Linked DNA regions of Homo sapiens. The protein of the gene in region 4 purifies or fractionates together with the protein of the main gene of each other region. This does not show direct contact. Each region holds a gene or a part of one and is shown on either strand. Other genes may lie near its edges. The genes, in order: PFKL, TAF7L, SMARCC2 and TAF13.

Evidence for each region.
Region 1: the proteins of TAF13 (region 4) and PFKL purify together in Homo sapiens (affinity purification with mass spectrometry, with the first as the bait; one large-scale study listed by BioGRID). This does not show direct contact.
Region 2: the proteins of TAF13 (region 4) and TAF7L purify together in Homo sapiens (affinity purification with mass spectrometry; 3 studies listed by BioGRID and IntAct, with this or other methods). This does not show direct contact.
Region 3: the proteins of TAF13 (region 4) and SMARCC2 purify together in Homo sapiens (affinity purification with mass spectrometry, with the first as the bait; one large-scale study listed by BioGRID). This does not show direct contact.

What each region holds. Positions count from the first base shown.
Region 1 is NC_000021.9:44,314,417-44,322,488, reverse strand, and holds part of PFKL (ATP-dependent 6-phosphofructokinase, liver type), read right to left. Parts: intron 7,845-8,072; exon of another isoform or gene 7,443-7,844; coding exon of another isoform or gene 7,362-7,442; intron 6,246-7,361; coding exon 6,150-6,245; intron 6,058-6,149; coding exon 5,965-6,057; intron 4,020-5,964; coding exon 3,894-4,019; intron 3,139-3,893; coding exon 3,074-3,138; intron 2,406-3,073; coding exon 2,342-2,405; intron 761-2,341; coding exon 614-760; intron 357-613; coding exon 286-356; intron 1-285. UniProt on the Homo sapiens protein: Catalyzes the phosphorylation of D-fructose 6-phosphate to fructose 1,6-bisphosphate by ATP, the first committing step of glycolysis.
Region 2 is NC_000023.11:101,278,577-101,286,648, forward strand, and holds part of TAF7L (transcription initiation factor TFIID subunit 7-like), read right to left. Parts: coding exon 7,999-8,072; intron 5,008-7,998; coding exon 4,874-5,007; intron 3,878-4,873; coding exon 3,751-3,877; intron 3,200-3,750; coding exon 3,144-3,199; intron 460-3,143; coding exon 418-459; intron 1-417. UniProt on the Homo sapiens protein: Probably functions as a spermatogenesis-specific component of the DNA-binding general transcription factor complex TFIID, a multimeric protein complex that plays a central role in mediating promoter responses to various activators and repressors.
Region 3 is NC_000012.12:56,171,871-56,177,574, forward strand, and holds part of SMARCC2 (SWI/SNF complex subunit SMARCC2), read right to left. Parts: intron 2,895-5,704; coding exon 2,781-2,894; intron 1,980-2,780; coding exon 1,826-1,979; intron 1,160-1,825; coding exon 1,067-1,159; intron 835-1,066; coding exon 715-834; intron 621-714; coding exon 558-620; intron 68-557; coding exon 1-67. UniProt on the Homo sapiens protein: Involved in transcriptional activation and repression of select genes by chromatin remodeling (alteration of DNA-nucleosome topology).
Region 4 is NC_000001.11:109,061,432-109,069,503, forward strand, and holds the end of TAF13 (transcription initiation factor TFIID subunit 13), read right to left. Parts: intron 4,802-8,072; coding exon 4,704-4,801; intron 3,263-4,703; coding exon 3,092-3,262; 3' UTR 2,709-3,091; downstream 1-2,708. UniProt on the Homo sapiens protein: The TFIID basal transcription factor complex plays a major role in the initiation of RNA polymerase II (Pol II)-dependent transcription.

The DNA.
Region 1 (8,072 bases), on a different chromosome or scaffold from region 4:
CAGGCTGCCTGGCCTGGCCAGGCAGGGACAGACGCTCGCCAGCTTCCTTGCCACGGAGAGCCCACCATGGGCATGGGGCCGCCAGAGCAGCCTGCCCTACACAGCGGAGCTCAGGCCAGGAAGCCCCAGGCAGGAGGCGTGAAGCCTGCTCTGGGCAGACCACCAGCAGGAAGAGGGGCCGAGCCCAGGGCCCCGGGCTGGGTTCCCCTTGCCGCCCCCACCTGCAGGGCCTGGATACTGCGCCCTGGCCCTCCTGCCCCCAGGTACCCGCAGCAGGCAGCTCACCTCTTGGTCCCCAGCATGGAGCCACCACGCCCCAACCAGCCGGCCACGTCGTGCCAGCCTACTTCTTGCACCTGCCAGGAGGAGATGCAGCTTCAGGGGCCAGCCTGAGCCTCTGGCCAATTCCCCCCAGGGGTGGGCCTGTGCCCGGGGGCCAGCCAGTGTTGGGCATCACGCTGCAGGCAGAGCTGAGTACCCAGGCCCGGGTGGGCACCGACACGCGGACCCAGGTCTCAGCCTCCACCTCCAGCAGCCGGCCTTCCACAGGAAATGCCCCAAGTGTGCACACAGAAGGCCCAAGTCCTCACTTGTTTGCCCCGGCCGGACCCACCTGACCCTTGGCTAGGCCTTCGAAGCCATCGTGCACCACGTATACTGTGTGTCCATGGGAGATGCCGGTCCGCACCGCCGAGCGCACGGCCGCATTCATGCCAGCCGCCGGGGCCCCCACATTCAGGATGGCCAGGGAGAAGTTAGACTTCAGAGAGAAGGGGAGATGAGCGTGAGGCACAGCCGGGGAGGGGACCCCCAACCTGCACAGGAGGTCAGCAGGCCGGCAGGTTCTGGAAAAAGGGGCCAGGCCCTGCCAGCAGCCTGGACGCTGCCCAGCACACCGCCCAACTGCCCTGGGAATACGGTATCTGTTCTAATTCCAGAAGATTCTGGTGAAGACCAAAAGAGACACGGTGCAAGCCTGGCCCCCTGGCACGCAGGCAACAGAGGAGGCAGAAGGGGCGAGCACTGTTGTGAAGCCAGGCTTGCGGGCGGGAACACAGGTCAGTGCCCACACAAGGGGCTGGCAGCGGGCGGGAGGGTGGGGGGTGCACAGCCACGAGTAAGGAAGGGGCCCTGGCTATCCTGTTTTCTAGTAGCCACGTTAAGGGAAGGGAAAAGACATGGAGACAGTCCCATCAGGACTACAGTTAATTTAACCTGATGGACCCAAAACCCCACCACATCCATGTGAATCCAGTGACGGCCGCCACCACCTCCCCTCCACCCACCGTGCTGAGGCTCTGAACCTGGCGTGCACCTGTCACGTGCAGCACATCCCACTTGGCAGCAGCCACACCCAAGGGCTCCATAGCCACATGGCCCCACTGGGTCCTGGTACGAGCCAGCCCTGCTGCCCACAAAGCCAGTCACGCCCCTGCCAGGTTCTGGGTTCGTGGAGACCAGGTTGCCCCACCACGGAGGGTAGAGCCCGCTGACTAGCTCTGGGGATAAGCAGGAGGCTGGAGCAGCAGGGACACCCAAAGATGTCCATGGAAGGGAGGACCAGACTCAGGCTGGGCCACGCTGTCTGCCCCGGCCTGCAGCTCCGGCTGTGGCTCAAGGGGCTTGGGAGCCAGGACCTCACTGGCCGTGACTCTCTCTACAGGACCCTCGTCCCCCAGGACTTTAGAAACAAGCCATTTCATCCTTATTTTGGAGAGATCCCATTTCCTGAGGTTTTCAGCTGTTTGGGAACATTTTATTTTCAGAGTTTCACTCTTGCCGCCCGGGCTGGAGTGCAATGGCACGATCTCGGCTCACTGCACCCTCCACCTCCCAAGTTCAAGCTATTCTCCTGCCTCAGCCTCCTGAGTAGCTGTGATTACAGGCATGTGCCACCACCACGCCCAGCTAATTTTTGTATTTTTAGTAGAGACGGAGTTTCACCATGTTGGCCAGGCTGGTCTCGAACTCCTGACCTCAGGTGAACTGGCCACCTCAGCCTTCCAAAGTGCTGGGATTACAGGTGTGAGCCTGGCCCCGGGGGACATTTTCTACACAATGGCTTCTCCTCTCCTGAGTTAAGCCTGTGGCCTGACTTCATTTCCATCCACCACTGAGAAGCAACAGCCAGCCCTGCAGCCAGGGTCCCAGCACCCGGGACCTGCCAGCCACAGTGGTGCCTGAGCCCAGGCAGAGGTCAGGCCCACCCTCCCAGCTCACAGCTCGGACCCCAGCAGGAGGGAAGGTGGGGGCAGGCAGGCCCAGCCACGGGGCCAGCGTGAAGAGGCTGCAGAATAACTGAGCCCGTTCCTCCCTCTGTGGGCGCCGCTCCCTGCCTCACCTTCTCCTTGGGGGGCTTCTGGTGGGCGAGGAGCTTGTAAATGTTCCAGTTGTTCTCGAAGCTCCTGGAAGGGATTCGGGTCACACCATGCACAGCCCTGCAGCGCCACGGCGTACAGCCACAGCGCAGCCGTGACAGAGCCCAGGAGGCTGGTCACAGGCACACGGCCCGATGGAAGCTCAGCCATGAGGCAGCAGACACCGCGCATGCCAGGCAGGGCACCTTCCACAGAAGGTGCGAGACCCCCAACACAACACGAGGCCACGCCAGCCCGTGCAGCAAAGCACGTGGCCGGCATCCAGCTCAAGGGAGGGTTGGCCACCTTGGTAGCGGGTGGAGGCACGCATGGGAACCCAGACGTCCAATCCAGCCTGACCCGGCCGCCAGGACGCCTGCAGGGGGGTGGTACCCACACCCAACATCTGCCAGCCTTCCCAGCCCCCGCGGGGCCACCCCATGTCCTGGGCTTGTATCCACAGCTTCTCATCCCCTCGCCATGCCCAGATCCCTGTGCACTGGGCCCTGCCCGTGCCACCGCCCAGGGTCTCCTGTGGTACCACACCTCCCAGCCCGCCTCCTGTACCACCCGCAGGCCCCTTCCTCCCTCGATCTTCAGACGCGGTGCCTAGAAGGATGACCCAGGCCAGGCGTGCATAGCGCCACTGCAGCACATGCTGCCTGGCACCGGGACCCAGCCATGTAAGAGTGCAGGGGTCTGCTGAGGGGGCTTACCCACCACGGAGCTGGGTGGCCTCGTCAAACCTCTTGTCATCCATGGCTTTCTGCACTTCCTTGGTCTTAAGGAAGAGAAACAGAACACAGACTATGGAGAGCCTGGCCCGCACACCCATGGCTACTGCCCTGTCTGGTGGGCCTGACGAGGGCAGATCTGGCCGGCATCTCCTGACCCTGGCCCAGGCCTGGCAGCCTCTCCCTAGGAACAGCGGTCACCACCAAGGCCAGCTCTTCTGGGGCTGGCTGAGACCAGGAGGCCCTACCCTGCCCCCAGCTGCCCTCCTCACCTCTCAGCAGCTCCAGCTCCAGGCAGGGCACTCTGCCCCAGTTGCAGGCCTCCAAACCCACCGAGCCAGGGCTGGACCAGCCCCCACACCCGGCCCCCTCGCCTCTGCCTTCCCCGTACCTCCTCTCCTGGGGTCCCTGCTCCAGCCACCCCAGTGTTCCCCATCACCTGCCTGAGCTCCTCCCAGGGCTCTGCTCTGATCACTGGCCCCTCCTCCTCCGTCCCATCGTAACCCCAACTCCCACCACTGCCTACAGAAGCTCAGTGGCCGTGGACCCCTGTGACTTCCCATGCTCACCAGGCTCCCTGCAGCTCCGACACACCTCCTGGGGAACGTCCCAGGTCCCACGTCCCACCCAGGGATGTGCTCACATCCCTCCCCTCCCTGGAGACCTGGGATGCCCTGGGCCAGCCACGAGGCCCTGCCCTCCGGTGCTCACAGTGCTGGGGCCCCCAGAGAGCAGTGGGGCCTGTGAGTGGGGACTGGGGAGAGGGGCCAGGCGGTTCTGATGGGGGGGGCCCAGGGCTTACCATCTGCACGCACTCCATGAGGGGCAGCCGCACTGACTGGTTCCCCGAGAGGGTGACCACGCAGGCCGGCGTGTCAGGCGTGGCTTCCAGCAGCGCCATCACCGCCTCCATGCCCATCTTGCTGCTCTGTGGGGAAGGGTTCAGGCTGGCACACCCACTTGGTCCCTCTACCCCAAGCCACATGCCCATCCTCTGTAGATGTGCAAACCCCAGCTTCCAGAGCCCCCCACGCTGACGGAAGCTTCCAGAACAGGTGGCATCAGAGATGGAAACGTGTCTGACCAGCATTCACGACGGCACACCAGACACCATTTCACAGAGTCCTCGCTGCCCTGCTGGAAGGCCCAGCCTGCACTGCTGGCTGCAGGGTGCCATGCAATGCGACCCACCCACCGTCGCTCGCTGCCATCGCTAGGCGCGCAAGGCAAGGGCGGGAGCCAGGTCCCCAGGGCCCCATCCGCTGCGATGGATCCTCCCGTGGAGGCCCTCATGTCGTGACTTCCCTGGTGTGTGTCCGCACCGGCCAAAGGGCTGGGCAGAGGACACATCCAGGAGCTGCCCCCCAGGGACACACTGCAAAGGCAGGCCCCAGCCCCACCCCGGGAACCGGCCACAGTGGACAAGAAAGCCAGGCCTGCGGTTGCCGTGGCCGTCCCATGACCACCAGTGGCCAGCCCTGTAGAAGCCCAGCAGCTGGACCCCCGGGGCCACAGACAGCCCTCCGTGTTCCACACAGGTTTTTTCATCTTGCAAGTGAGGCACAGGCGGCACCTTATTCTGGGCAGTCTCTCCAGGACGCTGTTTAGGGAGCAGCCTCGGAGACACCCCCCATGCAGGATGAGGCTCCTTGGAAAAGTGCAGGTTACCACTGCACGTGCTAGGGTCCCCTGGCCCCTTCGCAGCACCCAGTGGGAATACGGGCTCAGGGAGCACAAGAATGCTGACGCTCTGGGTGACAGCCGCGGCTAGGGGCGATCAACTGTCCTTTGTTTCACACCCGGCATCAGGCATCCAAGACACTGGCTGGAAAACCCAGCAGCCTGCAGGCTGGGAGTGCATGGCTGGCCCGGTCACAGCAGCGGCATTTCCATCACCCCAGGCTCAGCAGCGGCTGGCTTGCCCTGATGTCCCCGGCCCCTCAAGAGGCTCTTCAGAGTGAGCCTGAGGCCTCACAGAGGGGACAGCAGCTGCCTGGCTAGGTCGGCGGGGCCCCTCTCTGAGGAAGCCTCCCCTCTATAGAGTGGCCCTCGTCCAGCTGTGTGGGTTCCCTGGGAATGCTCGGCTCAGCACACGAGTCACAGGGCCAGGTGCAGTCACAGGGCTGGGCGCAGTCACCTGGTCTCCCTCAGCACAAGTCCCACCTGTCTGACAGTCTCTGGCCCTGCCTGAGAGGGTGACCACCCTCATACACAGGCATTTTGCCTACCATGGTGCCTTCCTGGCCCCAGACCCACTCCATTTGGCTCCAACTTCATTCCCATTTTGCAGAGGACAAAGTGAGACCCAGCGGTGATCAGGACCAAGGACGGCGAGGCCAGGCCAGACCCCGAATGCTCCCTCCCAGCACCAGCCTCCCAGACTGTGACGCCACAGGCGCCATGGGCACCACCCTCTGCCCACCCAGCCCCTCTCCCAGGGCCTGCCCCTGGCCCTGACTGCTGCCACGTTGGGCTGGCAGAGGGTGGGGGTCAGAACAGCCAGGAGGCACAGGCTGGTGGGGGGCCTCCCATGGTCCCCAGGTCTGAGTTCCCTATACCTGCAGGGGAACGGAGAAGCCAGGCCTCAGTCTCCCCCAGGAGGAGCAACAGCTTGAGGGAACACCCACACACACCCACACTGACACACACCCACACACACTGCCACACACACCCACACGGACCAGACACACACAGACACACCCACAAGGACCACGCGTCCCCCACACATACACCCCCACACACAGACACGGACACTCACCCACAGCCACATGGACACAGTGCACGTGCCATGCTCGCGTGCACACTGCCCACACCCACACCCACACACCACGCTTACCCACGCACGTACGCAGGGCAGGGTGATGGCCACTTACCAGGATCCGGTCGAAGGCAGAGGGCGTCCCTCCCCGCTGCACGTGGCCCAGCACAGTTACACGGGTGTCGAAGCCCAGCCTCTGAACCACCAGCTGCAGGACAGTGGGAAGGACCAGCCCTGAGCCCCAGCCCACACGGCCTAGAGGAGCAGGTGCCCAGTGGCCACCCCCAGGCCCACACGCACGTCCTTCACGTAGCTGGACGAGATGGGCTTCCCGTTGCGGTCAATGGCACCCTCAGCGATGATGATGATGTTCAGTCGGGACCCACGGCTCCGAGTCTGGGTCAAAGACACGACAGGGCTCAGCTGCCAGGCAGGGAAACCTGCCCCGGACACAGCCCCCGGGTGCCAGGAGCCCTCCCTGGGGCCACCATTCCCAACCCACATGGGCCAGGGCACAATCCCCACCCAGCAGGAGGAAAGCAGGCCTGGAGCGCGAGGGCAGAGATGAGGCTGGGCCCACTAGGACGCCCCGCCCTCCTGGAGGCGGTGAACAAGAGGGCTCTGCCCGAAAGCCTGGGAAGGGCAGCAGGGGAGGAAGGGGGCCCTCGGGGCTGGGCCCAGCACACACACAGCTGGGGCTGGGCCCTTGTGTCTGGTGAAGCCTTCCAGGCGGGAAGACGCACAGGGCTGCAGCTCCACGGGGCACAGGGCAGAGGGGCCTGCCCGGGCTAGCCTGGGCCAGGTACCTGGGGCCCCTGTGAGCTTCCATCTGCTCATCCTTATAACCAGGGGCCCCGCATCGCTGGCACCAGCCAGGGCTCCCCGGACACCCTGCACCCTGAAGCCACTGTGGGTCCACACTGGTGCACATAGGACACACCATCCCCTCTGCCAGCCTCAGGCTGCTGCCTCAGCACCACACACCAGCCGCGGCCCAGCTCTCTGGGAACTGAAAGAGCTTTTCGGCCGTCCACTTCAATGACCCAGCCAACATTTGTGGGACTCGCTCTGAGCCACAAGCCCCATGTTTGCCCACCACGGGCCACAATGCCTCCTACAGGGACAGGGTTGGAGCAGCTCAGACAGGGCCCGGGTGTGGTGGGAGTGGAGGGCTACCTGGAGGAGGTGGCGCCAGTGCAGGTGAGGTCAGACACCCGGAAGATGGGCTGCAGGTCCAGCAGGAGAGCTGTGCCACCCTCCCTGCCCCAGTGCACCCTGGGTGGTGGGCAAGGCGGGAACCCGCATGTTACAGGGGGAAACAGACTCTCAGTGAGGGCCTGAGCTGCTCACACAGAGCAGGAAGGAACCAGGTGGGCCGACCTTGCATCCAGGCCACTTCCAGGAGGGCCCAATGTGAGTCACAGACATAAGCTAAGGCCAAGGTCACCACTGGAGCCGGAACCCCCGGGAAGTCCCTGCCCTAGGAGAGCAAGCCCCTCATAGGACCCGCACCTTGGGCCAGCCTCGCCTGTTGGGCTCCATCTCCGCCCGGCCCCTAGGCTCCACTGGGGAAGGTTCTAGAAGCCAGGTCATTACCCACGGCCTCTCCCACTGCCCTCGGCAGCACTGTACAGCCACGCGGAGGTGGAACCAGTGTCCACACAGATGGGAGTGACGCTGCCACCTTCACACGGGGACAGGGATACCGTGTCAGTCCCAAACCCACCCTCTGCCCCCAGGGCTGGTTCCAGTGGTCCTGCCTCAGCCTCAGCGCACAGAGGACAGAGCTAGAGCCACGGGGGCCCCTGGCCTTGCCCTGCATGGTCGGGTGTGGGCGAAGGACAGCCTGAATGGCCCGTGCCTCTGGTCCACCATTGAGCCCCACCCCACCAAGGGGCCGACCTGTCCCAGTTGAGGGGTCTCAGGGTCCACAGGGCAGTGTCAGCCTGTTCTAGGCCAGAGCCCCCAACTCCACCCCAAGGGAACCAGAGGGCGGCATTCCAGGCACCCCCACTCCAGACACACCCCTCCCCACCAGGCACCCCCCCATCCCTCCCAGAGGCGGTCTCGGCCTCCCAGCAGCCTCCCCACCCTCTCCTGCTTCCGGGACCTCCTGTCCACCCTGTGGCTACAGCCACGTTCCGACACATCTTTCCAGCCTAGAACCCACCCCCGGGCCCCGACCGCCCTCAGGGGAAGGCCCTGCTCCCCACTGGCCCAGCT
Region 2 (8,072 bases), on a different chromosome or scaffold from region 4:
ATGTTCTCCCTTGAATCCAGTTTTACATAATTATCTCCACAGCAACCAATTTGTTGTGCCACAAATAGAAATTAGGATTTTGATGGGGAATAAGCAATTGCAAACAACTGCTGTTAAAAGTGAGCTCTGGCTCCCAAGGAATGGCTTTTGAAATAAATATCAGAATAAAAAGAGCAGATTAGAATACACGGGGTCACTGGCCAAATTGTATCTTTTCCTCTAGCAGTTATCAAACATCAAACAATGAATTCATTTTTTAGTGAATCAAACCCAGTGTATGTGTTTAGGATGAGGGTTAGAGGTGAGAAGGAAGGCTCAAAAGTAGCTTCTGTGGTTTATTTGATTCATTTGAAACTAATGAGCTATTAAATAAAACACATTAAGGGTAAAAATGAAGTTATATTATGATTGCTCTACCTCAGTAAAGCTGCTTTTTTCCATTTCTTTGACATCAGGGACCTATGAAATAAAACACAATAAACAAGTTATATTATGATACCTATATTTCAGTAAAGCTTAAAGAGCTCTACAACTATCCTTAACTTAGTTTTACATTTAGTAGGCACTCAATAAATGTTGATTTACAGAGTATAAAAGCCAAGGCAACTGTGTTCATGGATTGGAAGACTCAATATAGTAAAAATGTCAGTTCTCCCCAAATTGATCTACAAGTTTAATGTAATTCCTGCCAAAATTCTAGCAAGGTTTTCTATAGCTATAGACAAGCTTATTCTAAAATTTATATTAAAAGATACAGGCTTTTGGCCAGGCGTGGTGGCTCATGCCTGTAATCTCAGCACTTTGGGAGGCCAAGGCGGGCGGATCACGTGAGGTCAGGAGTTCGAGACCAGCCTGGCCAACATGGTGAAACCCGTCTCTACTAAAAATACAAAAATTAGCCGGGCATGGTGGCCCATGCCTGTAATCCTGGCTACTTGGGAGGCTGAGGCATGAGAGTCGCTTGAACCCGGGAGGCAGAGACTGCAGTGAGCAGAGATCGTGCCATTGCACTCCAGCCTGGGCAACAGAGCGAGACTCCATCTCAAAAAATAAATAAATAAATAAATAAATAAAGATATGGACTCTAGAATGGCTAAACAATATTGACAAAGAAAAGTAAAGTCAGAGCAATCAGCCTTCTAATTTCAGGACCAATTATATAGCGACACTGTGATATTGGTGGAGGGATTGACAGATGGATCAGTGGAGGAGAATGGAGAACCCAGAAACAGACCCATAAAACCAAGCCCAACTGATATTTCACAAAGGTGCAAAAGCAATACAACAGAGGAAGAATAGCCTTTTCAACAAATAGTGCGAGAGCAATTAGACATCCTTTGGCAAGAAAAGCAAAAACAAACAAACAAACAAAAACAAAACAACAACAACAACAAAAAAAAAACCTTGAACTAAACCTCATAGCTTTTACAAAAATTAAGTCGAAAATGGGCATCAGGCTTAAAAAGATGTAAAAAAAAAAAAAAAGCAGGAGAAAATCTTCAGGATCTGGGCTAGGCAAAGAGTTCTTAGATTTACTATAAAAAGCAAGATCGTTTTCAAAAAAATCAATATATTGTACTTCATCAAAACTAAAAACTTTTGCTCTCTGAAAGACCCTACGAAGAGGATGGAAAGACAAGCTACAGACTGGGAGAATATATTTGCAAACTACATATCTGATAAAACACTGGTAGTATTTAAAATATAAAAAGAACTCTCAAAATTCAATAATAAAAAATCAATTTAGAAAATAGGCAAAAGGCATGAGCAGACATTTCGCTGAAGTGGAATAGATGGCACATGAGATGCTCAACCCCGTTAACCATCAGGGAAATGTAAATTAATACTACAATGGGATCACTATGCACCTATCAGAATGGCTAAAATGAAAAATAGTGACAACACCTAATGCTGGTGAGGAGGTGGAGAAACTGGATCATTCATACATTATTGGCAGGAATATAAAATGGTACAGTCACTCTGGAAAACAGGTCATTTCTTACAAAACTAAACATGTGACTACCATATGACCCAGCAATTATACTCCTGGACATTTATTCCAAAGAAATGAATACTTATATTCACACAAAAACCTGTTCACAGCTTTATTTATAATAGTCAAAACCTGTAAACAACCCAGATGTCCTTCAAAGGGAGAACAGTTATGTAATGTGGTACATTCATACCATGGAATACTACTCAGCAATAAAAAATAAACTATTGATGCTACAAAAACTTATATGGATCTTAAGTGAATTATGCTGAATGAAAAAATAAGCTAGTCTCTGATGTTATATACTATATAATTCCATTAATATTAAATTTTTGAAATGACAAAATTACAGAGATAGAGATCAGATTAGTGATTACCAAGTGTCAGAGACTGGGGTGTGAGGTGGAAGGGAAGTGGGCATGGTTATATAAAAGCAAAATGAGGGATCCTTGTGATGAAACTGTTTTGTATTTTGACTGTGTAGACAGATACATGAACTTACACATGGGATAAAACTGCATAGAACTAAACACATGCACAAAAATACACGAGTACAAGTAAAACTGGAGAAATTGGAATAAGATTGCAGAATTCTAATCATGTCAATTACCTGTTTGTGGTATTGTACTATAGTTTTGCAAAATGGGGAAAATGGCGAAAGGGTACACGATATCTCTCTTTTATTTCTTACAACTGTATATGAATTTACAATTATTTCAAAATAACATGTTTAATTTTAAACAAAAGAAGAAGCCAAGCCACAATACTCCTGTAGTTTGCCCAAGATTCTACAAGCCTGAAATAACATTAGGAATATAACCACAATTCCCAATTTTCAGGTTCTGGATGGGTTCACTTTAAAACTAGATCTTGCAATAGAAAACTGAAAGCATTAACAGAAGTTTCAAATGTATGATTCTTCCAGACCCCAAATGACTAGCCTATAACCTCAAGGATCAGGTCTTTTTATTCACTGCTATATTCCCTACTGCTAGCATACAGTGCCTGGCATTTAGTTCACATTCAATAAATGTTTATTGAACATATAAATGAATTAAAAATTAATTCCCAACTGACTTTTTCTCTTTTCTTCTGGCCCATGATCCTCTTCTAATCGGCCCGGCAGACACACAAATAGCATGTAACTAACCTTTTTTTGTGTTTTCCGGAACCTTTTCTTTCTGACATTCTTAAGTGGTGGCGTAACTAAAATAAATACAACACAGTGAAACGTTATATGACTGATGGTAGTCACATAGCTGAATTTGATAAAGACAAAGATCATGCTATAAACCAAAGGGTCATGACATCACTCCTTTTTTTTTTTTTTTTTTGAGATCGAGTCCCACTCTGTTGCCCAGGCTGGAGTGCAGTGGTGCGAGCTCAGCTTACTGCAACCACCTCCTCCTAGGTTCAAGCGATTCTCCTGCCTCAGCCTCCCGAGTAGCTGGGATTACAGGTGCCCGCCACCACACCCAACTAATTTTTGTATTTTTAGTAAAGACAGAGTTTCACCATGTTGGCCAAGCTGGTCTCGAACTCCTGACCTCAGGTGATCCACCCGCCTCGGCCTCCCAAAGTGCTGGGATTACAAGCGTGAGCCACCGCGCCCAGCTGACGTGACTCCTCTTAAAGAGTATCTGAGAACCTAATGAACCAAACACCTAAGTGTGGTAAGACGTCCCTGTTTCACAAGGAATTAGGATTCAGCAAATAAATTTTAGTCAGCAGGAATGAGCAAGGGGCTGGTGACTTACTGCCATGCTTCCAGACACATTTTTCTTCTCTCCCCCTTTCTTTTTTCCTGACTATATTAGGATCAGTAGAGGCAGCTGGTTCTTCTGGAGAAAGGTGGATATCACCATCAGCAGTGCACACAAGCATCTACATTTAACAAAGACAAAGAAGTTGACTATGACCACGAATTTTGGGTTAGCAATCATAATCATTCTTACCACTAGAAATGCACAGAAGAGACTGATACTTGCCATTTCCAGAAAACCAAGTATTTTGTAATGTACATTTATATTCTCTCATTTTTGCAGTCTCTCTCTCTCCCTCTCCTCCCCACCACCAGCCACCAGCAGCACTACATATGAACTCTGAAGGTGCTTTGTTTTGTTTTTTTTTTTCCACGAGAGTGTTTACCACTACAGAGGGAATATATTGGAAACAGATCTTGGAACTTAGCTTAGGTTTTTTGTTTTGTTTTTAGACAAAGTCTTGCTCTGTCATACAGGCTGGAGTGCAGTGGTACGTGATCATGGCTCACTGCACCCTCGACCTCCTGGGCTCAAGTGATCCTCCCACCTCAATCTCTAGAATAGCTGGGACTACAGGTGTGTGCCACCACACCTGGCTAATCTTGTTTTTGTAGAGATGAGGTCTCACTATGTTGCCCAGGTTGGTCTCAAACTCCTGGGCTCAGGTGATCCTCCCACCTCAGCCTCCCAAAGTGTAGGGATTATAGGCATGAGCCATTGTGTCTGGCCTATCTCAGCATTTTGATTTAGAGAGGAAATAAGAAATCAACAGCAGAGATGATGAATAAGAACCAATTTAAACCTCCAGAGTTAACAACATACTGTTTTAATACAAAGTTCAGAAGATCCCAGCAGCTCATATGTTTCAATTAATGAAAAGTCACTATAAGTGGCAAATGGGACTCTCTATAGGCTATTTGGTCAAAATACAATACTGAAAGCTAAGGATCAAACACCAAACGAGAACATGACATTTCATTCCTGTGCAGTCAATCTGGAAATTAGAAATGCCAAGCAGCCATTCACCAAGTGGAAAGGAGTACTGAAAGAAAGAAAAATAGGAAGAGAAAAGAATTCCTTGAAGGATGTGAGGCTAGTAAAGAAAACTAGTCCATACCTGAGAAATGTCTGCTGTTTTATAAAAGGTTTTTTTATCAAGCGTTCTCAGGCTTTCAATAACACAAGGCAAGTCAACCAGCTTAGCAGCTAGTGGGACATCTTCTACTTCAACAACTGCATGGCGCCCATCAGCTGAAGAGAAGTAAAGATTAAAGTTGATATCTTCCCAGTGAACTCTTAAACTTCCTAAGGTTTGAATAATGAAGACTTATGTGGGACAGATTAGTCTTTCCAAGAAACCTACTATCTCTCATAATGCTAGAATTGTGTACACAATTAATAGCTTCCTAAAGAAAAGAAATGGAAAGTATATGGAGCTCTTTTTTCCTAGTTTACGTCACTTGTGCAAAAGTAGCTAAGTTTCTTGTTAATGGATGTGAACTAAATATAGGTGAAGTAATAAATGTTTCATTCTCATCCTGAAAAGCAAATTCCATTCATTAAAACCAATTCCTTTTTTTTTTTTTTTAGAAGCATTCAATCGTGTCATTGTACATGTGTGTTTTCAAAGGGCTGGGTGAGGGAAGGGTTGACTGACCCTAGAATGGTGCTAATAAATCTCAAGTTAAATCTCTAATTAGCTTCATAAAGATAAAATTCTATACAACAGCCATATACTAAACTCTGAATATTGCTGCTCAGATGTCCCAAACATAAATGTCTTTTGACACAAGAGGATTCAGGTATAATCTTCTAGTATTATGTGAAAAAAGAAAGATACAAAACAATGTTTATCATTTTGTGTGAATTAACTCTAAAAATAGAGAGATTGCTTCAATTCTAGTATTATGCATAAGAGTTTTGTCAATAAGGAAGTAACAAGAAACAGTATCAGTTATCTGTGGTATTGAGGTTGGGGCACCATAAGGAAGAAGAGTTTTATTTCTCCTTTCGAACTTTTCTTTTTCATTTGATTTTTTTATTTTTCTTTGAGAAGGAGTCTCACTCTGTCACCCAGGCTGGAGTGCAGTGGCATAATCTCTGCTCACTGCAATCTCCGCCCCCTGGGTTCAAGCAATTATCATGCCTCAGCCTCCCAAATAGCTAGGATTACAGGTGTGCACCACCATGCCCGGCTAATTTTTGCATTTTTAGTAGAGACGGGGTTTCGCCATGTTGGCCAGGCTGGTCTGGAACTCCTGACCTCAAGTGATCCGCCCGCCTCAGCCTCCCAAAGAGCTGGGATTACAGGCATGAGCCATCACACCCAGCCTGTTTTATTTGAATTTTCTAACTATGAACTTATATTATCTTTTTTAAAAAATGTCAGTAAGTGTTAACTAACTGGTGAGATTATGAGCCACTTTTTGTTTTCTCCTTTATATGCTTCTCTGTATTAAAAAAAAAAACTAGCAAAATTTATTTATTTTTGGTTGTGTGTTTTTTAGGCAGATAAACTTGTGTGGAAACATTTATTTATTTATTTACTTATTTACTTATTTATTTACACATGCTCTTGGTGCAAATGGCCTCTAGATTCATCCATGGTGTCCCAAATGACAGAATTTTGTTCTTTTTAAAAGGCTGAGTAGTATAGCATTGTGTATACGTATCACATTTACACTTAGGTTGATTCCATATCTTGGCTATTGTGAATAATGCTACAATGAATATGGGAGTGCAGAGAGATATGCCTTCAACATGTTGATATCAATTCCTTCTGTGAATATATTCACAGAAGTGGGGTTGCTGGATCACATGGTTGTTCTATTTTTAGTTTTCTGAGGAACCTCCATACCATTTAAAAAAAATAATGGCTGTAGGCCAGGCACAGTAGCTCACGCCTGTAATCCCAGCACTTTGGGAGGCTGAGGTGGGTGGATCACTCGAGGTCAGGAGTTCAAGACCAGCCTGGTCAACATGGTGAAACCCCATCTCTACCAAAAATACAAAAAAATTAGCCAGGTGTGGTGGCGCATGCCTGTAGTCCCAGCTACTCGGAAGGCTGAGGCAGGAGAATTGCTTGAACCCAGGAGGTGGAGGTTCCAGTGAGCCAAGATCGCGCCACTGCACTCCAGCCTGGGTGACACAGCAAGACTCCATCTCAAAAAAAAAAAAAAAAAAAAAAGGCTGTATTAATTTACATTACCACCAATAGGGTACAAAGTTTCCCTTTTCTCCTCATCCTCATTAACAGTTGTTATTGTTCTTTTTTTTTTTTTAATAAAAGCCATTCTAACAGGTATGAGGTGATATCTCGCTGTTGTTTTAATTTGCATTCCCCTAATGATTAGTGATGCTGAGCATTTTTTCATGAACCTTTTGGCTACTTGTATGTCTTCTTTTGAGAAATATCTGTTCAGATCCTTTGCCCATTTTAAAATCAGGTTATTTGTTTTCTTGCTATTGAGTTGTTTGAGTTCCTTATATATTTGGATATTAACCACTTTATTGGATGTACAATTTGCCAATATAACAAATATTATTTAAAAGAAAAATATATGTCACTGGCCAGGCACGGTGGCTCACGCCTGTAATCCCAGCACTTTGGGAGGCCAAGGCAGGCGGATCACAAGGTCAGGAGTTTGAGACTAGCCTGACCAACATGGTGAAACCACGTCTCTACTAAAAATACAAAACTTAGCCGGGCATGGTGGCATGTGCCTGTAATCCCAGCTACTTGGGAGGCTGAGGCAGAAGAATCACTTGAACCCAGGAGGTAGAGGTTGCAGTGAACCAAGATTGCGCCACTGCACTCCAGCCTGGGCGACAGAGCGAGACTCCATCTCAAAAAAAAAAAAAAAGAAAGAAAGAAAGAAAGAAAGAAAGAAATACATGTCACCTTTATAAACAAAGAATGGCATATCCATTTGTCATTCCCTTGGATGTTCAGAAATCATAAAGTTTATATATGGGAGGCTACCAGCAGTATAAAAACCCCACAGTTGACCCCCAAGTTTCCTTAAACACACTATGATAATCACTCAACTCAAGGTGCAATATTCCTACTTCCTTTCCTCTTAAAAGAAGAGGACTTAAGCCTCTCTAAAGCATGAGTCCATCAAGTCAGAGACCATATTCTATCATTTTTCACATCCTTAGTACCAAGTACAGTGTATGGCACATAGCAATCCCTTAATAAATTATTGTTCAATGTATAGTGAATGGATATTAACTACTTACGCAATAAGTCAATTTTTAGTTTATCCTTCATCTTGACACTTTGAGAACGTGCTAGGTTCCTGACAGTACAAGCA
Region 3 (5,704 bases), on a different chromosome or scaffold from region 4:
CGTCCTGTGTGCGGCTTCCCACATGCTCGGACACTTTGTTCCAGTCATCTTTGTACATTTCCAGTGCCTGGTGGTAGTGGTGGAGACATAACTCCGCTTACTTAGCCACTTTTCTCGAAGGCTGACTCCCCCCATCCTACTAAGGGCAGCTGGTTTCAAAGTTCTCTATGTTCTGGTATTTGTGTACTCTGCTAGGTCCAAGGGGGATCTTGAAGTAGCACTAAGAAAGGATATGAAGTTAATGAAATGGCCCAAATCCCCAGCCTGGAGCTGGTCCTGAAGCTCACTGGAGCCTTGACCTCCTAGGCTCAAGCAATCCTCCCACTTAGCCTCCTGAGTAGCTGGGACCACAGGTGTGTGCCACCACACCTGGCTAATTTTTAAAATTTTTCGTAGAGACGGAGTCTCACTATGTTGCCCAGGTTCATCTCGAACTCCTGGACTCAAGTGATCCTCCTGCCTTGGCCTCCCAAAGTGCTGGGATTACAGGCGTGAGCCTCTACACGGAGCCCACTTCTGTTTTCAGAGAAAAACTCTCTTTTCTTTGCCCCAATTACCTCCAGGAGAAGCAGGGTTTCCTGTTCTGTCCACTCACGAGTGGCACTGGCTGCAGCCTTGCTCTGCAGGGGAAACACAGGCAGGTGAGAAGAAAGGAGCCTGTGACCTCTGAGGAGCGAACATTCTCTACCCCTAGAGTCGGCCCGCACCTCCTACCTTGGAGGGAACATTCTTTTTTGTGTACATGTCTGTGCGCAGCCCAAAGTTTTGCATGTCTGTTGGTTTCTCTTTGCCTTTGTCAGGAAAGTTGAGCATTTGTTGGGAAGCAGAGGTCTGCTATTTGTGGAGGGAAAGAAACAGGTGAGTACAAGTGACCACCGGGAGCCAGGGGCTGACAGAGAGAAAAAACAGACAGAAGGAGCTTCTTTCCCAAAGCCAGGGACACCCCTGGGTGGGACTTCCTCCCTTACTGCTGTAGTTCCTCTGCTCTCATGTCTCTTCTTCCCGGGCAGGGGCCCCCCAATAAAGGGGAAAATGAGCAGCCCAGCAGGGTCTGCACCCCACCTACCAGCTCTGGCTTGCCCTTAGCCGTCTCTGGCACCAGGTCATCCAGCTCTTTGCCCTTTCGCCCAGCCTTGGTATCAGCATCAACCTGGCGGCCCTGGGGGACAGAGCTTGGCGTCATGGAGGCTGGGCAGGAAATGACCAGGCCAAGGCCCTGGAGGCCTCAAGACCATATGCTGGGCGGCCCACAAGCTCTGGGGGCACTCATGCCACTGTTCCATGTTCCCTTCATGATTAATAAGACATGTCGTTGGCATGATATCCATACATATTCACATTATCTTTATAGGTTCTCTTAGGAGCTGGACAATTAGGTTCTAATCCTAGATTTGGTACTCTGTGACCTTGGGCAAGCCACATAACCTTCTTCCTAATTTTTGTAATGGATGAAGTGGAAATGGAAAAAAAAATGAAGATGATAATTATGAGGCAAAAATGAAAAAATGTGGCAAAGATGACAAAGTTTAAAAATTTCATGCAAGTTAATTTTAAGCCATTTTTCTCTATTGACTCCCCTACATTAGCCTGTCTACTCCTTGAGTAAAAGGATAATCTCTTCTCCCTCAGCAATTACAGCCTTAGGTACAAAGGCTGAGAGAGGATGCTAAACACATGGGGCTGATTCCCGTGACCCTTTGCATCCCATGGAAAAGGAAGAAGCCTCAAAACACTCCTGAACCATTACCCTAAAAACCAGAAAAAGAAAAGTTCAAAGAAGCCCAATCTTCCCAACCCGCCCCATCCCCATAGCACCTCACCCTACCTGAGGTGTCTTGGGCTGCAGAGGCACCAGCCCTGATGGTGTGTCAGCCAAGACATGGAAGTGAGAGGTAGGCGGAGGCCCCATTGGGGTTGGTCGACTCTCAGCATCCACCTGGTAGTTAATAAGACCCCACTGTTCTAGGAAGGCATGGACCCTGTGCAGAGAGAGGCAGAGACAGGGTCACACGGATAGCCAGAAAGGTGCACGAGGAAGAGGAAAAGTGGGGGGTAGAAGGGGCATAAACCCCCTCCCCACCCAACCCCGGCCTTTTCCTCTGTTCATTGTACTCCTTAAGAAATCTCACCTACTCCAGTTGTTCATTTATCACCTAAATGCCAGTGACACCCAAGTCTACATCTTCAGCCTGGGCCAATCTCTATATCTACCTACCTACCGAACATTTCTTCCTGAATAGCTAGTAAAACTGAACCAGTTTCTTTCTTTTTTTCCCTAAGAGAGACTGAAGTGCAGTGGTGTGATCACCGCTCACTGCAGCCTCCACCTCCAGGGCTCAGGGGATCCTCCCACCTCAGCCTCCTGAGTCACTAAGACCACAGGCACGTGCCACCATGCCTAGCTAATTTTTTTGCATTTTCTCTAGAGATGGGGTTTTGCCATTTTGTCCAGGCTGGTCTCGAACTTCTGGGCTCCAGCAATCCTCCCACCTTGGTCTCCCAAAATGTTTGGATTATAGGCATGAGCCACCACACCTGGCCTGAACCAGTATCTTTCAATTACAGACATGCTCCTTCTTTGTCCTATATTCTACACTTCAGAGAATGCCATTGCTAATCCCTCAAGTCATTCATTCCCCAAACCTGTACTTCACCTTTCTCTAGAGGTGCTTTTTTCTGTCTGCTCCTCTGTGTTCCTTGCTGGCATCTCTACTGTTGCCAAAACACATCCATAGGCAGGCATCCTCATGTACCCCCTTCCCCTCAGCCACAAGACCCACCTCATGATGGCACAGACATCACCCGCTAGGTTTCGGCGGCAGGCGGTAGAGGTAAGATACTCTTGGGGGTTCAGTCGGTAAGTGTCAATCATAAAGTTTCGATAGGCCAGGTAGCTTAGAAGAAAGAGAGAGAGAAACAAGAAGAAGAAAAATAAATGTTTGTTAAAGGGCTAAAGGAAAAAATGGTAAGAGAGCTAATGACTTCTCCTGCATGATAAAGATGGAAAAAAGTAGATTATTTGACTCTACATGCTGAGTGCCTGCTATGTGCTAGATGAAAGGGTTTCAAATATGTCTTACTTTTCCTTGATGGGGTTTTCTTTAAATGAATTATCTCCTTGGCTATACTTAGGGATATTTCATACAATTTTTTTTTTTGAGATGGAGTTTCCCTCTTGTTGCCCAGGCTGGAATGCAATGGCATGATCTTGGCTCATGGCAACTTCCGCCTCCTGGGTTCAAGAGATTCTCCTGCCTCAGCCTCCTCAGTAGCTCTGATTACAGGCATGTGCCACCACGGCCGGCTAATTTTGTATTTTTAGTAGAGACAGGGTTTCTCCATGTTGGTCAGGCTGGTCTCAAACTCCTGACCTCAGGTGAGCCTCCTGCCTCAGCCTCCCAAAGTGCTGGGATTACAGGCATGAGCCACTGCACCTAGCCATTTTATACAATTTTTAAACAAGGAATTAGAAGTTAAGAAAATACTCATTTCCAAACTCAGATGTTAAAAGGAAGTCCTTATTCATGCATATAGCTAGTCAGCATACCACGGTAAAAAACATATGTTTTGAAGTTGAAAAGATCTAAGTTCAAATCCCAGTTCTACCATGAGGACCTTGGCAATTTACTTCGAATTTTTAAACCTCAGTTTCCTCATTTGTAAAATGGAATGTCTGTTGAGAGGTCTATAAAGTACTAGTATAGTGCCTGGCGCATTGTAGGGGCTCAAAAAAATGGCAGCTATCATGTGGTACAGTGTAAAGTTTCAGATCATGGGCCAGATTAAAGGATTCAGATCCTGGTTTTATTTACTAGCTCTGTGACTTTATGCAGGTGACTTGACTCCTCTATACCCTATCTGTCAACTGAAGATGATATCTACCTCTAAGGTTGACGTAAAGATTAAATTACTCAATGTAGGTTGGACATTTAGTATAGTGCCTGGGAGATACTAAGCTCTCAATAGATGCAGGCAATTATCATCATTTACTATTTTTTTTTTTCTGAGATGGAGTTTCACTCTTGTTGCCCAGGCTGGAGTACAATGATGAGATCTTGGCTCACTGCAACCTCCACCTCCCGGGCTCAAGTGATTCTCCTGCCTCAGCCTCCCAAGTAGCTGGGATTACAGGTGCGTGCCTCCACACCCAGCTAATTTTTGTATTTTTAGTAGAGACGGGGTTTCACCATGTTGGCCTGGCTGGTCTCGAACTCCTGACCTCGTGATCTGCCCGCCTGGGCCTCCCAAAGTGCTGGAATTACAGGCGTGAGCCACCATGCCCAGCCATCATTTACTATTTTATACCAAGAGTTCAGTTCCTACTCCAACCCTGCCTGCATGTCATGTTGAATTCATTTCACCTGATCACTACTTTCTTTTCACACATACTGCTTTCTCCAGGAAGAGAAGGAAGAGAGAACCATAGCAAGCTATGAAGAAAAAACACGGAGGGACCCCCAGAGAGGGGAAGCTGTGGAATAGCTGGGAAGAAAACTTGTTCAGTTCTCAGTCTCACCCACCTCATCAATGTGGTTATCTTGAAGTATTCCTAACCAAAGAAGACTGCCATGTCTTATCCAAAGCCAAGCAGGTTTGGCCTGAGGCAAAATCTTTTTTTTTTTCTTGAGACGGAGTCTTGCTCTGTCGCCCAGGCTGGAGTGCAGTGGCGCAATCTCGGCTCACTGCAAGCTCTGTCTCCCAGGTTCATGCCATTCTCCTGCCTCAGCCTCCCAAGTAGCTGGAACTACAGGCGCCTGCCACCACGCCCAGCTAATTTTTTTTTTTTTTGAGACGGAGTCTCGCTCTGTCACCCCGGCTGGAGTGCAGTGGCGTGATCTCGGCTCACTGCAACCTCTGCCTCTCAGGTTCAAGTGATTCTCCTGCCTCAGCCTCCAGACTAGCTGGGACTACAGATGCATGCCACCACGCCCGGCTAATTTTTTTTGTTTTTGTTTTTTTGTTTTTTTTGAGACGGAGTTTCACTCTTGTTGCCCAGGCTGGAGTGCAATGGCGTAATCTCGGCTCACTGCAACCTCCGCCTCCCGGGTTCAAGCGATTCTCCTGCCTCAGCCTCCCTAGTAGTTGGGATTACAGGCACGTGCCACCACGCCCAGCTAGTTTTGTATTTTTAGTAGAGACGGGGTTTCTCCATGTTGGTCAGGCTGAGCTCGAACTCCTGACCTCGGGTGATCCGCCCGCCTCAGCCTCCCGAATTGCTGGGATTACAGGCATGAGCCACCGCGCCTGGTCTTTTTAGTAGAGATGGGGTTTCATCATGTTAGCCAGCATGGTCGCGATCTCCTGACCTTGTGATCCGCCCGCCTCGGCCTCCCAAAGTGCTGGGATTACAGGCGTGAGCCACCACACCCAGCCTTGTTCATTAATTTTTTTAGATACGGGGTCTTGCCGTGTCAGCCAGGCTGGAGAGCAGTGGTGTGATCATGGCTCACTGCAGCCTCAAACTCCTGGGCTCAAGCAATCTTCCCATTTCAGCTTCCGAAGTAGCTGGGACCACAGGTATGCCCCACCAGGCCCAGCTAATTTTTTTTCACTTCTTTAGAGATGGGAGTCTTGCTATGTTGCTCATGCTATTCTTGAACTCCTGGCCTCAAGGAATCCTTCTGTCTCAGTGTCCCAAGTAGCTGGGATGATTTACAGTCGTGAGCCACCGTGGCTCCTACACTTCTTTCCCAGTGAGCCCTCT
Region 4 (8,072 bases):
CCTGTAGTCCCAGCTACTCGGGAGGCTGAGGTGGGAGGATTATTTGAGCACAGGAGGTCGAGGCAGTGAGCAGTGATTGTGCCACTGCACTCCAGCCTGGGTGACAGAGTGAGCAGTTTACTGAAGCCTTGACCTCTCAGGCTCAAGTGATTCTCCCACCTCACCTCCTGAGTAGCTAGGACCACAAGCGGAAACCACTGTGCCTGGCTCTTTTTTTTTTTTTACAGAGATGGGGCTTGCCTAGGCTGGTCTCCAACTCCTGGGCTCAAGCAATCCTCTCGCCTCAGCCTCCCAAGCAGCTGGGACTACAGGCATGCCACCACGCCCGGCTAATTTTTTTGTATTTTTAGTAGAGACAGGGTTTCACCATGTTGGCCAGGCTGGTCTGGAACTCCTGACCTCAAGTGATCCACCTGCCTTGGCCTCCCAAAGTGCTGGGATTACAAGTGTGAGGCACTGTGCCTGGCCTTGATTTTTAGTTGAGATGGGGTCTCTCTATGTTGCCCAGACTGGTCTCCAACTCCTGGGCTCAAGAGATCCTCCTGCCTAGGCCTCCCAAAGTGCTGGGATTATAGGCATGGGCCATGGTGCCCAGTCCTGCTTTTTTTTTTTTTTTTTTTTTTTGATACGGGGTCTCGCTCTGTCCCCCAGGCTGAAGTGCAGTGGCGTGATCTTGGCTCACTGCAAGCTCCGCCTCCCGGGTTCACGCCATTCTCCTGCCTCAGCCTCCCGAGTAGCTGGGACTACAGGCGCCCGCCACCACACCCGGCTAAGTTTTTTTGTATTTTTTAGTAGAGATGGGGTTTCACCGTGTTAGCCAGGATGGTCTCGATCTCCTGACCTCATGATCCACCTGCCTCGGCCTCCCAAAGTGCTGGGATTACAGGCTTGAGCCACCGCGCCCGGCCCAGTCCTGCTTTTTTAAATGAAAAGATTCACCCAGATACTCACTGAAATAAAAAAAATTTTCAGCTAGACTAAGCAGCAAGAATTATCATATTACCAGTAATGGGCATAATATTCTGGGAGGAAAAAAAGTCACAAATCAGTCAGATTCAAGGATCAACCTGTTTAATTGTTCATATTTTATTCCTGTATCAGTAGATTAAGAAAGTAAAATTTTCCCAAGCACTGATTTATAGATCATGTTTATAAGCAGCATACAAAAAGTTAAGTTTCATAAACAATAACATTCAGTGATCTACTTAAATCCAATTGTAATCCTTACTTTAAACTAAGGGCAATAATAATTTAATACATAGAGTAAATACACACAAAACCTGTGTATTCAGAACTACAAACATGGTTTCCATAGCCACGTATGGTTTTAGTCAAGGACACATTTCCACAATGAACAAGTACTTACAAATATGTTAATAAAACACTAACCCAAATGCTTACCCTGCCATCAGCTTTTTAAACAATGCCATTCCTGCTACTGAAAGCATTTATTTTTAGAAGCTTGAATCTGCTCTGGGAAAACGGGTTCTCCTAAAACTTAACAGGATGTTATAAATCCGAAAAGATTTTAAATCAAAAAGCCTTCCAACACAGCATTATTCATGTGAAACTTGCTTTCTTTTTTTTTTTTTTGAGACGGAGTCTCGCTCTGTCGCCCAGGCTGGAGTGCAGTGGTGCGATCTCGGCTCACTGCAAGCTCCGCCTCCCAGGTTTACGCCATTCTCCTGCCTCAGCCTCCCAAGTAGCTGGGACTACAGGCGCCTGCCACCGCGCCCGGCTAATTTTTTGTATTTTTAGTAGAGACGGGGTTTCACCGTGTTAGCCAGGATGGTTTCGATCTCCTGACCTCGTGATCCGCCCGCCTTGGCCTCCCAAAGTGCTGGGATTACAGGCGTGAGCCACCGCGCCCGGCCCGTGAAACTTGCTTTCTTAAAAAATAATAATAACTTGTTATCTGAAGAAAATTAAAAGATTATCTTTTAAGAGAGATAAACATTCTTACAAAAAACTATATTTTCCTCTATCATCTCTTTAAAAGAAATGCAAACCAGTTCATTATCTTTGTTTTTTTGAGAGTCACACTCTATTGCCCAGGCTGGAGTGCAGTGGCGCCATCTCGGCTCACTGCAATCTCTGCCTCCTGGGTTCAAGCAATTCTTCTGCCTCAGCCTCCCAAGTAGCTGGGATTACAGGCACATGCCTCCATGCCTGGCTAATTTTTTAATTTTTAGTAGAGGTGAGGTTTTGCCATGTTGGCCAGGCTGGTCTGGAACTCCTGGCCTCAAGTGATCTGCCCGCCTCAGCCTCCCAAAGTGCTGGGATTACAGGTGTGAGCCACCACGCCCGGCCTAGTTCATTATCTTTAATAATGAACTAGACAATAAACTAATTGTTGTCTAAAAACTTCTGAATACATGAAGTACAAGTCTGAGCTGTCAAGTCAAAAATGCCATTTAGATTTCACATATTAAACAGCTATAGTAGGCCAGGCGCGGTGGCTCACACCTGTAATCCCAGCACTTTGGGAGGCCGAGGCAGGTGGATCACGAGGTCAAGAGATCAAAACCATCCTGGCTACCATGGTGAAACCCCGTCACTATTAAAAATACAAAAAGTTAGCCAGGCGTGGTGGCAGGCGCCTGTACTTCCCAGCTACTCGAGAGGCTGAGGAAGGAGAATCACTTGAACCCGGGAGGTGGAGCCTGCAGTGAGCCAAGATCACGCCACTGCACTCCAGCCTGCCAACATAGTGAGACTCCATCTCAAAAAAAAAAAAAAAAAAAAAAAAAGCTACAGTATAGCTTACAAGGGCATAAACATACCTAACACATTAAATACTACTTTATCCTTTAAATAGTCAAAAGTCAGAACAACGGCATGGTTTGCAAGGTACTTTGACTTATGTGTGGTCATTAAAACCCAGTAAGTAATTCAAGTATGGTAATATAAAGGCAGGCAATTACATGCACCAATATCACCCTAAAATCAAAGGCATAAAAATAAAGGCTGAAAACTTTGTGTTTCTCCATCTTTCATTTACATGGCTAGATATCAGAATCTTACTTTAGAAAATATACAATTATTATATATGGTTTCCCCAGATGGTAATTTTCGGAAACTACAAAAAGTGTCAAGATCCATAATTTGCTTCATCAAATGCTTTTCTAGCTCGTTTCAATTCTTCATTCATAGTAAGCAAGTCTTTAACCCTGGCAAACTTCCTTGGGTCCTTTCGAATCAAGAAGACGATATCTTCAACTTGTACTCGACCTTGTCTTCCAATTGACATTGCCTTGTGAGTCTATTACAAAGAAACATATTACATTTAACTTTTTTAAATCTAATATTTTACTGTTTTAATTTGCATTTATTAATTGCAAGTGAGGTAGAAGATTTTCTCTTATTATTATTATTATGGCTATTCATTTGTGAATTATCTTTCTACTCATGTCCTTTGTCTATTTTCTACTGGATTATTAGCAATGTTCTCCTTTATGCTTCACAGGCACTTTAAAAAAAATCTTAAGGACATGAAAGCTGTCAACTTTATTGTTCCTTTTTTGTTTTTTGATATATGTAGATTTTGTCTTCATTTATATAAAATAATTTTATAATTTTGTGTACCCACCCATTTCATTTATGCTTTGTGTCCTCCTCTATCTTAATACCCAATAAATATTGGTGGGTTTTCTAAAAATCAAATAACTCTATCTCATCCTGTCATTATATACTCACCTGTGCAAAATCAAAGACCTATCACAGCATTATTTCTAATGATTAAAAAATAGAAGCTAAATACTTAATAATACGGCATTGAGCCAGACACAGTGGCTCATGCCTGTAATCCAGCACTTTGGGAGGCTGAGGGGGTAGATTGCTTGAACCCAGCAGTTCAAGACCAACCTGGGCAACATAGTGAGACCCTGTCTCTACAAAAAATTCAAAAATCAGCAAAGCATGGTGGCATGTGCCTGTAGTCCCAGGTATTTGGGAGGCTGAGGTGGGAGGACCACTTGAGTCCGGAAGGTCTCAGCTGCAGTGAGCAATGATCATGCCACTGCACTCCAGCCTGGGCAACAGAGTGAGATCCTGTCACACACACAGACACACACACACAAAAAATTGCGTATCTTTAAATACTGGAAAAGGAGGGGAAAAAAAAAAACCTATGTTGGATAATGGTATTATGGATAATATTTTTATTTTATTCAAGGATTTTATAATTATGTCCTTATAAAAAATGCAAGAGGCTGGGCGCGTTGGCTCACGCTTGTAATCCCAGCACTTTGGGAGGCCGAGGCTGGCGGATCACCTGAGGTTGGGAGTTTGAGACCAGCCTGACCAACATGGAGAAACCCTGTCTCTACTAAAAATACAAAATTAGCTGGGTGTGGTGATGCATGCCTGTAATCCCAGCTCCTCGGAGGCTGAGGCAGGAGAATCCCTTGAATCCGGGAGACGGAGGTTGCAGTGAGCCAAGATCGTGCCATTGCACTCCAGTCTGGGCAACAAGAACGAAACTCCATCTCAAAAAAAAAAAAAAACAAAAGGAAGAAGGGGGGATAGAATATACATGTATAACCTCCATCCTCAATGATAAATAGTAACCAATAACTTCTGCAAACAAGCACTCAAATGGATAGCTTATTTCAAAGGGATGCCATAAGTTCTAGTCTTACCTAAAGTTTAATATTTCAAATCTATTCTTCAATTAACTAAGACCAGTTAGGAAAGAATCTTACCATTTCAGTGATAAACTCTATGACAAGATCTTCAAGAATATCCACTGACTCAGTATAAGGATTCTGGTCATCCCCAAAGCCATACATCATACATCGCACTGTAAAAGAACAATCACTTACTTTTGTTTACTTTTACAGATTTAACAATTTGATACTTTAAAAAAATAAAGTAGAAATGAACCAAGTTATAGATAATATTGGTATGAAAACATATTTACATCGTATTTGTTATCTCCAAGTATGGATTCTTGTGTAAAAGGTTTAAGAACAGTCTGATGACCAACTGTTCCCACGTAGCCTCCAGCAAAACTCTTCCTTCCTCCCACCTACTGAACCCTAAGGTAAACAGTCTTTTCCTAATCTCTAGCATCTACTTACCAGTCCCTGCCCCCAGCAGAACACCTTTAAGTAGGAAACTCTGGCAAAGGACAGGACAGACAGCAACAGCTTAGCCTTTTTTGGAGGTGGTTTTTGTGTGTGGGCATGGCAGTGGGGCGTTGGAAAAACGGCAGACTCTTTACTGATATTACCATAGGGGAAAAGACATGAGAGACAGTTCTCCAAATACTTTTTTTGTTTGTTTGTTTGTTTGTTTTTCTTGAGACAGAGTCTCGCTCTGTCGCCCAAGCTGGAGTGCAGTGGCACCATCTTGGCTCACTGCAAGCTCCATCGCCTCCTGGGTTCACACCATTCTCCTGCCTCAGCCTCCCGAGTAGCTGGGACTACAGGCACCCACCACCACGCCCGGCTAATTTTTTGTATTTTTAGTAGAGAAGGGGTTTCACTGTGTTAGCCAGGATGGTCTCGATGATCTGACCTGGTGATCTGCGTGCCTCAGCCTCCCAAAGTGCTGGGATTACAGGCGTGAGCCACCGCGCCCAGCCCCAAATCTGTTCTTATAGGAAGAAACAGGGTACTCAAAATGAGAAAGCAGAGGGCTTACTACAAGGAATTTTGACATTTCCTAGATCAATACAACTGCAGCAAAGCCCTTTCAGGCTTCATCTGAAGAAACCATAGGAAATGCAAAGGATAAGTCTAGGTCGGGTGCAGTGGCCCACGCCTGTAAACCCAGCACTTTGGGAGGCCCAGGCAAGTAGACTGCTTGAGCTCAGGAGTTTGAGACAAGCCTGGGCAACATGGCGAAACCCTGTCTCTACATAAAAAACAAAAATTAGCTGGGCGTAGGCCTGGATGGTGGCTCACGCCTGTAATCCCAGCACTTCAGGAGGCTGAGGCAGATCACTTGAGGCCAGAAGTTTGAGATCAGCCTGGCCAACAAGGTGAAAACCTGTTTCTACTAAAAAAAAAAAAAAAACACAAAAGTCAGCTGGGGGTGTTGGCACATGCCTATAATCCCAGCTACTCGGGAGGCTGAGGCATGAGAATCGCTTGAATCCAGGAGGCAGAGGTTGCAGTGAGCTGAGAATGCGCCACTGCACTCCAGCCTGGGTGACAGAGGGAGGCTGTGTCTCAAAAATAATAATAATAATAAGAGAGACTGTGTCTCAAAAATAATAAGAGAGAAGTCTAATACAGACAAATAAAAATAACTGCCAAAAGATAAAACATATATAGCCCTTATTATATGCCAGGTACTGTCTTAAGTCCTTTACATATATAACTCATTTAATCCTCACAATGATCCTTTAAGGTAGAAACTATTGATTATCCCCATTCTATAGATGAGAAAATTAAAGCACTGCAGTAACTGATTTACCCAAGGTCACAAAGCTAGTAAGAGATGGAACCTGAGTTTGAACCCAGCTGATCTGGTTCGCGTCTTTACTCATACCCACAACAGCATCGCACTTGTTGGTAGTTGTAGTTTAGGGCAGACAGGATCCGTGTGAATTCTTTTTTTTGCTCTCCTTTTTTGAGACAGTCTTGGCTCTGTCGCCCAGGCTGGAGTGGTGTTGCAGTACAGCTTGCTGCAGCCTCAACCTCCCTGGCTCACGTGAGCAGCTGAGACTACAGACACATGCCACTATGCCTGGCTAATATGTGGGGTTTTTTTTGAAACAGAAGTGTCACTGTGTCACCCAGGGTGGAGTGCAATGGCACGATCTCAACTCACTGCAACCTCCACCTCCCGGATTCAAGAGATTCTCAAACTTTAGCCTCCAAGTAGCTGGGATTACAGCCATGCGCTACCACACCCAGCTAATTTTTTTGTATTTTTTAGTAGAGTCAGGGTTTTGCCACGTTGCCCAGATAGTCTTGAATTCCTGGCCTCAAGTGATCTGCCTGCCTTGGCCTCCCAAATTATTGGGATTACAGGCCTAAGCTACCACACCCAGCCATTTAAAATTTTTTCTAGAGACAGGGGTCTTGCTATGTTGCCTAGGCAGTTTTTGAACTGGTTTCTAACTATTTATTTATTTTTATTTTTTCGTAGAGACAGGGTCCCACCTTGTTGCCCAGGCTGGTCTTGAACTCCTGGACTCAAGTAATCCTCCTGCCTTGGCCTCCCAAAGTGCTAGGATTACAGGTGTGAGCCACCACACCCAGCTGAGATCCACAGAGGTTCTTATCCTATCGCCTATAAACTCCCAGTCCAGAGACAAGCTTTAAGAAGTCCTTGAAGGCCAGCGCGGTGGTTCACGCCTATAATTCCAGCACTTTGGGAGGCCAAGGTGGGCGGATCACCTGAGGTCGGGAGTTTGAGACCAGCCTGACCAACATGGTGAAACCCCGTCTCTACTAAAAATACAAAAATTAGGGGGGCGTGGTGGCACGCACCTGTAATCCCAGCTATTTGGGAGGCTGAGGCAGGAGAATAGCTTGAACCCAGGAGGCAGAGGTTGCGGAGAGCTGAGATCATGCCAATGCATTCCAACCTGGGCGAAAGAGGGAGACTCTGCCTCAAAAAATAAAAAAAGAAGTCCTTGAGACTACCCTGAAATCATACGGAAAAATTTTATACATTATCTGTACATGGGCATTTTTCTGGGAATAATTATAACTTTTATCAGATTATCAAAGGGGTATATGTAAATGGTAAGAAATGCTGTCAAATGCTGGAAGTGTTCTGTATCTTGATCTTAGTAGTGATTACAAGTGTGTGAGTGTGTGTGTGTGTGTGTGCGCACATGTATACAGTTGTCCCTTAGTATCCTTGGGAGCTTGGTTCCAGGACCTCCCGTGGATACCAAAATCTGCAGATGCTCAAATCCCAGATATAAAATGGCATAGTATTTGCATATAAGCTAAATACATCCTATGTATATTTTAAATCATCTCTAGGTTACTTACAATACCTAATACAATGTAAATGCTATGTAAATAGTTGTTATACTATACTGTTTAGGGAATAGTGACAAGGAAAAAAGTCTATACATATTCAATAGAGGCACAGTTTTTTTTTCT